3 linked regions of the Homo sapiens genome follow. Changing the gene in region 2 together with the main gene of any one other region gives a genetic interaction. Each region holds a gene or a part of one and is shown on either strand. Other genes may lie near its edges. The genes, in order: FASN, GGPS1 and ATG7.

The links.
Region 1: changes in GGPS1 (region 2) and FASN together harm fitness more than expected from each alone (negative genetic interaction), as found in Homo sapiens cells (one large-scale study listed by BioGRID).
Region 3: of GGPS1 (region 2) and ATG7, changing one enhances a phenotype caused by changing the other (phenotypic enhancement), as found in Homo sapiens cells (one large-scale study listed by BioGRID).

What each region holds. Positions count from the first base shown.
Region 1 is NC_000017.11:82,095,414-82,099,673, reverse strand, and holds the start of FASN (fatty acid synthase), read left to right. Parts: upstream 1-1,437; 5' UTR 1,438-1,553; intron 1,554-3,221; 5' UTR 3,222-3,228; coding exon 3,229-3,355; intron 3,356-4,201; coding exon 4,202-4,260. UniProt on the Homo sapiens protein: Fatty acid synthetase is a multifunctional enzyme that catalyzes the de novo biosynthesis of long-chain saturated fatty acids starting from acetyl-CoA and malonyl-CoA in the presence of NADPH.
Region 2 is NC_000001.11:235,334,953-235,338,598, forward strand, and holds part of GGPS1 (geranylgeranyl pyrophosphate synthase), read left to right. Parts: intron 1-289; 5' UTR 290-312; coding exon 313-382; intron 383-3,646. UniProt on the Homo sapiens protein: Catalyzes the trans-addition of the three molecules of IPP onto DMAPP to form geranylgeranyl pyrophosphate, an important precursor of carotenoids and geranylated proteins.
Region 3 is NC_000003.12:11,278,751-11,282,396, reverse strand, and holds part of ATG7 (ubiquitin-like modifier-activating enzyme ATG7), read right to left. Parts: exon of another isoform or gene 3,577-3,646; intron 1,404-3,576; 5' UTR 1,295-1,403; intron 228-1,294; exon of another isoform or gene 205-227; 5' UTR 1-204. UniProt on the Homo sapiens protein: E1-like activating enzyme involved in the 2 ubiquitin-like systems required for cytoplasm to vacuole transport (Cvt) and autophagy.

The sequences.
Region 1 (4,260 bases), on a different chromosome or scaffold from region 2:
CCCCGGCCCTGTCTTCCCTTGTCCTTCCTTGACCCTCGGTCCCACCGTGCGTCAACCACAGCCCCAGAAGGGAAAAGACGCGGAGTGGCCGCCTGACCCTCAGGCCTGCTCTCAGGAGAGGAAGGAAGCGGGACACCTGCAGAGGGGCCGGGGGCCCCAGTCTCCGGTTCCCCTTCAGCGGCCCGGGCTTGCTGAGCCCTCAAAGTAGGACACGCAGCCAGAGACACCTGTGGCCTCACAAGGCCCGCTTGCCCCCCATGGGGTGCCTGGCCCCGCAAGCGCGAAGCGGTCAGAAAAGGGAGGCCGCGCTTCAGGGCTCAGGCCGCCCAAGGGGCCACGATTCGAGGAATCACTCGGGAGGGAGGGAGCGCGCGAGGGCCGGGCTGAGCCCCCGCCCGTGGGTGCGCGCCTGGAAAACTCGCAGCCTCCGCCCTGGGAAGTGGGGCAGCGGCTCCCTTTGTCCGCACCACACCAGGTGGGTGTCCCGGCCGACTCCGCTCGCCACGTGGCCGCGCCCCTCCCCTCCGCCGAGCTCCAGCGGCCTGGAGTGCGCTCGCCCGTTCGGCCCTGCGCCTCGTCCGGGTCCCCGGGAAGCTGCTAAGGAGGGGCCGTCGGGTGGGTGGACGTCCGTCTCGGGTCTGGGTTCCCCGCCGCACCCGCGAGGAAAACCGGGGATGCGCTGCGATGACCGGCAGTAACCCCGGCCGGGGCGCCCGCGGCCGGGGTCAACGCCCGCACTTGCGCCGCGGCCCGCGAGGCATCCGGGACCGCCCCGCCGCCCGCCCATCACCCTATCGCCTAGCAACGCCCACCCGCGCGCCGCCATTGGGCCGGTGCGAACACCCCTGGCGCCCGATTGGTTGCTGCTGCCGCCGCGCCGCGCAACGCCGCGCCCTCAGCCAGCTCCGCGCGGGCAGCGACGGCGGCGTGGAGTCGGCGGCCGAAGTGCGGGCACGCGGGTCCGTCCGTCCTTCCGCGCGCCTGTGGGTCCGAGCGCCCCGCCGCAGCCGGCTGGACCCCCGGTGTGGCCACGGGGTAGTCCCCAGTGTGGCCCAAGCATTCCCATCCCGCACACGTGGCCCCGGCGGACACGGGGGTCGGGGATGGCTCGGGAGGCGCGCCGCGGGCTCGGTCGCAGCCGCGTGCGCGTCGGGGCCCGCGGGGCGGGAGGCGGAAGTCGGGGGGCGGTGGTTTCCCGCCCGCCCCGCCCCCGGCGCTCCTCAGTCCCAGCCCCACCCCCCCAGGCGCGTTCCCGCGCAGGGTCCCGGCTCGGGCGGCGGCGCGCACGAGCATCACCCCACCGGCGGCGGCGCGCCGGGTCCCGGGGCGCAGCCCCGACGCTCATTGGCCTGGGCGGCGCAGCCAAGCTGTCAGCCCATGTGGCGTGGCCGCCCGGGGATGGCCGCGGTTTAAATAGCGTCGGCGCCGGCCTAGAGGGAGCCAGAGAGACGGCAGCGGCCCCGGCCTCCCTCTCCGCCGCGCTTCAGCCTCCCGCTCCGCCGCGCTCCAGCCTCGCTCTCCGCCGCCCGCACCGCCGCCCGCGCCCTCACCAGGTACGAGCAGCCGGCGCTGGGGCCGGGGCGCGGGTCGTGGTCGGGGCTGGGCCCGGGGTTCCCGGGGTGGCCCGGCTCCTCATCCTCCGCTCTCGGGGCGCGCGTGGCCCGGCCCCGTATCCAGGGGTCGCCTGGGCGGCCTGTCCGGGTCTCGGTGTTCGTGCCCCTTCGGAGGCGCCCGGGGCCCCGCGGAGTAGGTGGGCGGATGGCGGGGGAAGGACGCCGGGGAAAGCCACCAACAGCCGCCTTCGCTTCCCGTGGGGGAGGCCGCGGACCCTGAAGGGCCTGGAGGAGCCCCCGGCTCGGCCTCCCCGCGCCCACAAAGGCGCCGCCGCATCCTCCTCCCGGAGCCGCCCCGGAGCCGAGGCCCAGCCCGAAGGGGACGCCGCGAGGGAGGAACGGGGGGGCGCAGGGGCCGCGCCGGGACCGGCCTCCCCATCACGTGGCGCAGCCCGGCCGAAGCGCAGGGGTCCCGAGCAGCCCCCGCCCGGGGCGAAGGGAGGCCGGGCGCGCCGCGGTGTTCCCACCCCCTGCCTGGCCGTCGACCCCGCGTGAATAGCAAGCGGCGAGGACCCAGCGTGCGGGCCTGGAGCTGGCCCGGGGCAGCCAAGCCTCTGTGAATCGCAGCGGGTGGGAAGGCGGCCGCCTCCCTGCCGGGACGGCCCAAGGGAGGCCGCACTGCCGAGGGGCGGCGCGCGTATCAGGCCCTGGGGCCTCGTGCAAGTGGCCAGACCAGCGCTGGCCTCCGCCCCCTCCCCCCAGGGCCGCACCAGCCCTCATGCTGGAGGAGGAGCCGGCGGCCTGGGCACCCGTTCCGGGTCTTAGGGACCTGGGCTCCAGGGAGGGCCTCCTGTGGTGTGTGGGTTGGTATGGGGAGGCAAGCGTCTGTGGGTTCACCCGCGCAGGTGAAGGGTGCCAGGCAACACCTGCGTGTCCTGGCCAGGAGTGGTTCTCCAGGTTGGACCCTGCTGGAGGGGTTGGACTGGCTGGGTCGGTCCACAGTGGGGCAGGGGCCACCTTTCCCCCAGAGCATAGGCTATCCCCATTTCGTCCCTCCCCAGCCCTGGTGGCTCTTGGGCTGGCCTGGACAGCGGGCCCCCACCCCAACACGGGTGAGCATGGGTGCTGAGTACCCCCCTCTAGGGCTCCCAGCCACCTCCATGCCCCGGCTTTGGGACCCTGCCTCTCCATTTCTTTGATGGCCCTTAGCAGGCTGGCCACCTGAGGCCTTGTCCCCATCTCAGGTGACCCTGCCTGCTCCTCACTGTGAGCCCCCTGGTGCCCTAGGGATGGCCTGGGACAAGCTCCAGGAGCCTTGGAAGGCTGAGACTCAGGCGAGTGGAAGCCGACACAGGCGCAGAAACCAGTAACTGCTGGGGAGGCCAGGGCTGCAGGGCTCCAGTGGGGTACCCCAGCCAATACCCTGAACTGAATGGGTCAGGGCCCAGAGGCGGGCCTGTTCCCAGAGCACGCAGCCCCTCCCAGCGAGAGCGGGGTCAGGGCCCAGGAACTGGCCACATGAGGAAGGGAGCCGCAGGAGCCAGGGCCCGCACGGACCCTCAGGGTGGTGCTTGGCCCCATGGGTGTCCACCTGTTCTGGGTGCCGAGGCTGTTGACGGGGGTGTCGTGGCCGGGATGTGTGGGGCACTCACACCGCCCGCCCTGCAGAGCAGCCATGGAGGAGGTGGTGATTGCCGGCATGTCCGGGAAGCTGCCAGAGTCGGAGAACTTGCAGGAGTTCTGGGACAACCTCATCGGCGGTGTGGACATGGTCACGGACGATGACCGTCGCTGGAAGGCGGGTATGTGGCTGCGGGGCTCCCCGTGCCTGGGGTGTGAAGCTCCATCTCCACCTTTGTCCTCACAGCAGCCTCCCTGCTGTGCTGTGTCCTCACCACCCAGGCACTGGCCTGAGGCCGGTCCCAGCTGCAGAGCCACTGGTCACCCATGGGCGAGGCCTAGCTGCAGCCTCCTTCCTGGACATTGCACCAGAGTGGCCTAGAAAATGCGCCCAGCCTGCCAGGAGGTTCCCTCAACGGCTGCAAGGCCAACAGGAGGCTCCCCCAATGGCTGCAAGGCCGAGGGCTGGCCCAGGCAGGGCCCATCTGCTTGTTACGGAGGAGCCAAGCTCAGAGGATGGGTGACGGGCTGGGGTCTCTCACCCATGCAGGGGGTGCGGGGGGCCAGAGCCCTTCCGGCCAGGCTGCCCCTGCCTGTGTCTGTCCTGAGCTGGGAGGTTGCATACCAGATGTGCTCCGGGAGGCTGGAGCAACTGCCCCACACCCAGTAGGCTCTTCCACAGAGCAGCTCTACCTGACAGGCAAGCTGTGAGTCAGCATGGTAGAGCCGAGGCACCAGCCCGGCAGATGGTCCCCCAGCCTCACTCCCGCCGAGCTCTCTGCTCTGCGGCCCATCTCAGGATTGGGGCTTGGGGCTTGGGGCTTGTGCAGCAGATCTGGTCGTACCAGTCCCCGCTTTGGGGCCATGGTCTTCCCCTCCTGGGGAGCCTGCTCCATTGTTTGGGCCTCCCAGGCATAGCAGAGAGTCCTCAGTTCCACCATGGCCCCTCCAGGGGCCTGCAGCACCCCACAGGGCCCCCACCTCTGGGCAGCTTCCGTCAGAGATTTAAACACCCGCCTGTCCCACAGGGCTCTACGGCCTGCCCCGGCGGTCCGGCAAGCTGAAGGACCTGTCTAGGTTTGATGCC
Region 2 (3,646 bases):
GACCTCATGATCTACCCACCTCAGCTAATTTTTCATATTTTTAGTAGAGACAAGGTTTTGCCATGTTGCCCAGGCTGGTCTCGAACTCCTGGGCTTAAGCTATCCGCCCGCCTCAGCCTCCCAAAGTGCTGGGATTACAGGCGTGAACTACCGTGCCCAGCAACAGAATCTTCTTTTTAAACCAGACTAGGTGTCTTTTCACAAACACCCTGCAATACAAATTCCTTTGCAGTTTGACACTGAAAGATGATTAGTTTCATGTGATCTTTATGTTTCTCCTTTTTGACAGATTAGCTTTGAAGTTTAAATCCAATGGAGAAGACTCAAGAAACAGTCCAAAGAATTCTTCTAGAACCCTATAAATACTTACTTCAGTTACCAGGTAATACTTCACTTACAGTCCATATAGGGTCATTTTCATGCAGTAGTGGTCGTTCAAATGTTAGCAAATAGAAAAGGTTAGACTTGCTAGCCGTTGAGATTTTCTATTTAAGGTGATGCGTATGAGAAAAATGATAAATAGAACATTATAATTTTTTCTTTATTAAAAGGTAATTTTTGCCAGGTGCAGTGATACATACCTGTTGTCCCACCTACTTGGGAGGCTGAGGCAGGAGGATGGCTTGAGCCCAGGAGTTTAAGGCTATAGTGCACAATGATCACACCTGTGAATAGCCACTACACTCCAGCTTGGGCAACATAGTGAGACCCCGTCTCTTAAAAAGAAACGTAATTTTTGAAGGCACCCTTTAAAACATATCCAATTATTTAACATATCTTGAAAAATAAAAATACTTAAAACATTTTGGTATCTCATTGGAGGTTGTACTCTTTACGGATATTACGCATTCAGATTCCCCACTGTTTAGATATTAGGGGAAGTTACGCAGATTTGTTTAACAGTAGAACACTTTATTTACCATACATGTTCAAGTTTACCTTCTATGTCTGTATTTTCCAGTATCTCACACATACACTGCATTTCATATACTACTGGTTCCTTTGAGAGCCAAATAATAATGTATCTAAAATCACAGTATTTGGAAATATAGCCCACTTTATTCCTGTATAAGGGTATGCCACCTTGGACATGGCTTCCTACCTCACGTGTACGTGTGTGTTTTTGTTTTATTTTGCTTCTTTAAAAACTTGTCTGGAGGCTGGGCGTGGTGGCTCACGCCTGTAATCCCAGCACTTTTTGAGGCCAAGGCGGGCGGATCATGAGGTCAAGAGGTTGAGACCAGCCTGGCCAACATGGTAAAACCCCGTCTCTACTAAAAACACAAAAGTTAGCTGGGCATGGTGGCGCATGCCTGTAGTCCCAGCTACTCGGGAGGCTGAGGCAGGAGAATCACCTGAACCTGGAAGGCAGAGGTTGCAGTGAGCTGAGATTGCATCACTGCACTCCAGCCTGGCAACAGAATGAGACTCCGACTCAAAAAAAAAGAAGAACTTGTCTGGAAATGATAATAAGCAAAAACTCATGAATATAATAAACAGGGGTTATTGTAATAAAAAATCATTTGTATTAGAATATTCTTTCTCATAGACATAATATAGGCCAGGTGTGGTGGCCCACACCTGTATTCCCAGCACTTTGGGAAGCCAAGGCAGGATTGCTTGAGACCAAAAGTTTGAGACCACCTTGGGCAACATAACAAGTCCCCCTCTCTGTTTTAAACATTTTTTAAAAAAGAAGAAATAATATAAAAGTTGGTAAATTATTTGACAAGCATAAAAACCTATTTAGCCATACTGTGACTAAACTCTAATGATGCTCTCAATTCAGTCTCAATAGACACTTTTAAATTTCCGTGCTAAAGTACACACCTTTCTTTATGAGCACTTCTCTGTGGTAATATGTGCATTTCTGTTCTTCATGAGCCTGGGAAGGATAAAAGCCAAAAGAATGCTTGCTCCTGTGCTACACCTTGGAAACCATAATTAGTGTCATTTTTATTTTGGCCGACCCTAATAGAGACTCGCCTGCTAATGTCAATGCATGAGAAGAATGAGGGAATGACAGAAATGGAGAATTCAAAGGGAAGGTTGCCCACTGTTTAAGAAAAAGCCAAGAGACTGCTTTTGAGTGACATTTATCCAGCAGTTAGTAACTTATTTCAGTATCTCCCAGTGAGAAACATGGCACAGTTTCACTTTCACTCTACCCAGCTCTTACTGCCAGACATCCTTTAGAACACGCTCACAAACACTAGCTGGAACTGGGCTGGCATTAATAGCAAGCCAGTTATCAGTGCTGACAAAAGTCTAACAAGCATCGCTTGAATGTCTCTTACTCTGCTACTTACAAAGCAAGGACTGCCTACAGTTACATTTTAACCATAATGCTTACTTATGCTGTGACCACCTTCTGTGACTTCCTTTTTTTTAATTCTCATTACTTGGAAATAATGTTTTAAGACATTAGATAACATATTTAAAATTATCACTAGGTACCTCACCTTTTTATTCAAGTACGTTCTTGATCCATGATGGAATACAACCTCAAAAGATACTACTAAAGAAATATGACATTGCACTATGCACATAACACACTTATTTTTTTACAGAGAGCTTCAGAGTTACTAAAGTAACTTAGAGGTGTGCCAGGTCATTTATACTGTTGTAATATTACTCTTGCTAATAAATAATAATAATGCTATCAGTATTTTCTGAAGTCAACCTGGCCAACATGGTGAAACCCTGTATCTACTAAAAATACAAATATTAGCCAAGTATGGTAGCGCATGCCTGTAGTCCCAGCTGAGGCACGGGAGTCACAGGAGCCTAGGAGGCAGAGGTTGCAGTGAGCCGAGATCACGCCACTGCACTCCAGCCTGGGCAACAGAGTGAGACACTGTCTCAAAAAAAAAAAAGGATTTTCTGAAATTAGTAAAGAAAATTATTTTTATTTTTAAATTTCTCATACTTGCTGTCATCTTATGTTTATGTTTGTTTATTTGCCTTAGTGTGGGGCCCTAGATGAGGTGAAGGGTGGGATTAGGGAGAGATGAAGCTGGCAGTGGAGGAAGAAGGGCTCCAAAAAGAGAGACAATAATGTTTAGATCTTAAAGAGGAAGCAGTAATCTTTTAATTTTGAGAGATCTCTGTGATTAGCCTCAGTACTAGAAATTATTTTGGAACTCAGCCAGGCGCGGTGGCTCACATCTGTACTCCCAGCACTTTGGGAGACCGAAGTGGGCAGATGGCTTAAGCCCAGGAGTTCAAGACCAGCCTGGGCAACATGGCAAAACCCTGTCTCTACTAAAAATACAAAAAATTAGCCAGGCATGTGATACGCCCTTGTAGTCCCAGCTTACCTGGGGGACTGAGGTGGGATGATTACCGGAGCCTGGGAGGTTGAGGCTGCAGTAAGCCAAGATCACACCACTGCACCCCAGCCTGGGTGATTAAGGGAGACCCCGTCTCAGAAAAAAAAAAGGGGGGGAAACTTAAAAGCATCAGGCTAAACACTAGCATGTCATCAGAGGGGAAAAAAATATTAAAACTGTAGTACCTCAAAAATAAGCCATATATTGTACTGTTTTCTATATAACATTCAAAAGTAAAATGAAAAATGAAATTTCACATTGAGACTCTGTTTTTCATCTTCAAAAAAATGTGTTTAAGTGATACAGGCCAAGTG
Region 3 (3,646 bases), on a different chromosome or scaffold from region 2:
GTCAACCAGGGAACAAGCAGTCACATCCACAGTCTTCAAACTCTTATCTGTCCTTCTCATTGGTTACTTCCAGGAGCTGTTTTTCTTTTATTTTGGTTTCCTTCTGCTATAATATCCTTCACCTTCACATGCAATCTGGTGTCCATCAGCTTCAGTTTTTGAGAACGGATGCACTGGATACCAGCATTATGGGGTTTGAGAAGCCTACATGGGAGGGACAGTGACAGCTGAGAAAATGTGGGAAAGAGGAGAGAGGAAGCAATAATGCCAGGAAGATGGAGGGCAGTGTGCCTCCTTCTGAGTCCTTTTGTTACCTCCACTGATCAACAGTGTTGCCCATTTCTCTGTTCATCTGAGAGACACCCACCTGGATTTGTCTAAATCACTGTGGAGCCCTATGCCAACCAACAACTAAAATCTATGATGGTTTCCTAAAAGCTGGCTGAGTTATGAAGGCTTGCTTCTAAATAATTACATCTCTGTGGTTTTCATTTCTGGTATGTTTAAAGAATCCTGAGAAACGGGAGAAGTACTTTAAAACTGGGCCAAGCAAAGGCCTGATTTCCGATTTTCAAAATGTTTGATTTTTCTTTGTTTCTTTTCTCTTTTTTTTTTTTTTTTTGAGATGGAGTTTCGCTCTTGTTGCCCAGGTTAGAGTGCAATGGCACGATCTCGGCTCACTGCAACCTCTGCCTCCCACGTTCAAGCAATTCTCCTGCCTCAGCCTCCCAAGTAGCTGGGATTATGGGCGCCCGCCACTACGCCCAGGTAATTTTTTGTATTTTTAGTAGAGATAGGGTTTCACTATATTGGCCAGGCTGGTTTCGAACTCCTGACCTCAGGTGATCCACCTGCCTCAGCCTCCCAAAGTACTGGGATTATAGGCGTGAGCCACCACACCCGGCCTGATTTTTCAAAGATAAGAATAAAGATGGGTTCTAAAGACCACTGGACAGAAGTTTTGCTCCCAGGAAAGGCCCATATGGGCCACTCTAGTCCACTTAGCACCTTTGTACAATCAGAAAATTACACCTCTGCTTCAAGATTTTACTTCCTTTAGTTAGAGAAATGTTGTAATATACTGATTAGATTAGCTCAAGACATGGTAGCCTTCTCTGCCACTGTCATTACAAAAATGCACCCATGATACCTATGATATAAATGGAACCCCCTTTGATGTGGCCTCTTGTGCAGTGCACAGCCTGCATAACTGTATGAGGCAGCCCTAAGTAATCACAAGAGGCCAATATGGTTTCTCTAAGAAAAAGTCATGACAGAGTAACTGCATTCCTACCTTGATCAGGGAAGAATCATAGACGCAGGACATACAGGTCTCAGAAATGTCTCTCACAAGGCTGCTCTAGAAATCCCGGTAGACAAGGTGAAGATACAGGAATTGGATCCTGACATAATTAGAGGGATTAAGAACTGGTAAAATAATCTTATTCAAAGGATCTTGGTTACTGAATTAATTAATGTTAATTAGAAAGGAGCTAATAGCAGTACGTCTTTGGCTTAGTCTCTGGGCCTGTCCAATTTATTTTATTTATCCACATGAATGAATATTTATCAACATTTACTAAGTATTTCATGTGCACTGAACCCTGTGCTGGGGCTAAGAGCAGGGGGAATAGGCAAATAAACATATTCAATAAAGTATTCTTATTACCATATTTTACCAATAACTTGGATAATGATATAGATTTGCTTATCAATTTCATGACAAAAGAAGAAACAGGCAATACAAGTGACTAAAATTCAGGATAAAAAAAGATTCCAACCATCTGGAATGGCAGGCCTATTTTAACAAGATTTGAAATTTCATAGAGGTAAATCTAGGGCCCTAAATCTAAGTTCAAGAAAACAACTGGACAAGGCAGATGGTCTGCTAGACTGGAAAGGGCATAGGTTCATGAGCCAGAGAGACCTGAGTTCAAATCCTGTCTCTGCTACTTTCTAGCCACACCACCTTGGACAAGTCATTCAACTTCTCCGAGTCTGTTTCCTCTTCTGTTAGATGGGGATACCACCTACTGTGCAGAATTAGTGTGAAGATTCAACTAGAAAATGCATACATCTGGCCCATAGGAGACACTCAAAAAGCAGGACTAATATCATATTGTTTACCAATAACATGCCCGGCCAACATGGCGAAATCCCGTCTCTACTAAAAATACAAAAAAAGGGCCGGGCATGGTGGCAGGCGCCTGTAATCCCAGCTACTCGGAAGGCTGAAGCTTGAGAATTGCTTGAACCCGGGAGGCGCAGGTTGCAGTCAGCTGAGATAGCACTACTGCACTCCAGCCTGGGTGACACAGCAAGACTCTGTCTCAAAAAAAAAAAAGAAAAGAAAAGAAATGAAATTGGGGCTTCCATTAGTTATTTCTTCAATAAACAGTTATGTTACATACTTGTCCCTGTGCTACATTTCAGGGTTCAATGGCAAAAAAAAAAAAAACTATGGTCCCCACCTTTAAAGAGCTAACAATTTTGAAGCCAAAACAGACAACAAAACAGAAGAGGAATCGGAGTATAGCAATTTGGAGGTAAAACAAATACAGTATAGCCTGGCGTTTGTACAGAATGTTATAGGAGGAGGGATATCTAAATTAGACTGATGAGGCAACAGTGTTTCCTATAGAAACCCTTAAGCCAAGGTGGGGTTTTTTTGTTTGTTTGCTTTTTATTTTTTGTTTTTTGAGACGGAGTCTTGAGACAGAGTCTTGCTCTGTCACCCAGGCTGGAGGGAGGTGGCTCAATTTCGGCTTCACTGCAACCTCTGCCTCCCGGGTTCAAGCGATTCTCCTGCCTTAGCCTCCTGAGTAGCTGGGATTACAGGCACCCGCCACCATGCCTGGCTAATTTTTGTATTTTTAGTAGAGACAAGGTTTCACTATGTTGGTCAGGTTGGTCTCGAACTCCTGACCTTGTGATCCACCCGCCTCGGCCTCCCAAAGTGCTGGGATTACAGGCGTGAGCCACCACACCCAGCCAAGCCAAGGTTTTAAGAATATCCTATAGAAACCCTTAACCCAAGGTTTTAAGAACATCCAAGTAGATTCTCAACAGGGGCCCTACTGGCATGCTGGATGGAACAATTCTTTTTTGTTTAGAGCTATCCCTGCACACTGCAGAATGTTGAGCATCTCTGGCTCTCTCTCAATAAATGCAGTAATGCCCTCTGGTCAATGTCACAAAACAAAGCAAAATAAAACAGCTCCACAAACTTCTAAACCCACCCCTGATGGTTGAGAAAGGGAGGGTTAGATGACAGCACTAGCCCCATGCAAGGACCCCTGGATGAGGAGGCTAGAGGTAGGGAGTGGGGACTCTCCAGGCAAAGGGAGGAAGCTGACTCAGCTCCACATCATCAGCTGCAGAAACACCCCATGGCCTCTGCATAAGCTTAGAATTTTCTTGGCCACCTCCACATACCCATCATCTAGTGAATTTCTTTGCTCACTTCAAATCACAGCTCAATCATCACTTCTGAGGGAAGCCTTCCCTGACTCCCTCAGCTCTGGATTAGGTCGATCCTCCTGTATTCTAGTCCTCAAAGAGCACCAACTACCTTACCTTCATAGCACGTATGCAGTTATCCTCCTCAGTAGAATAAAAATTCTATGAGAAAGGAACCATGTCAGCT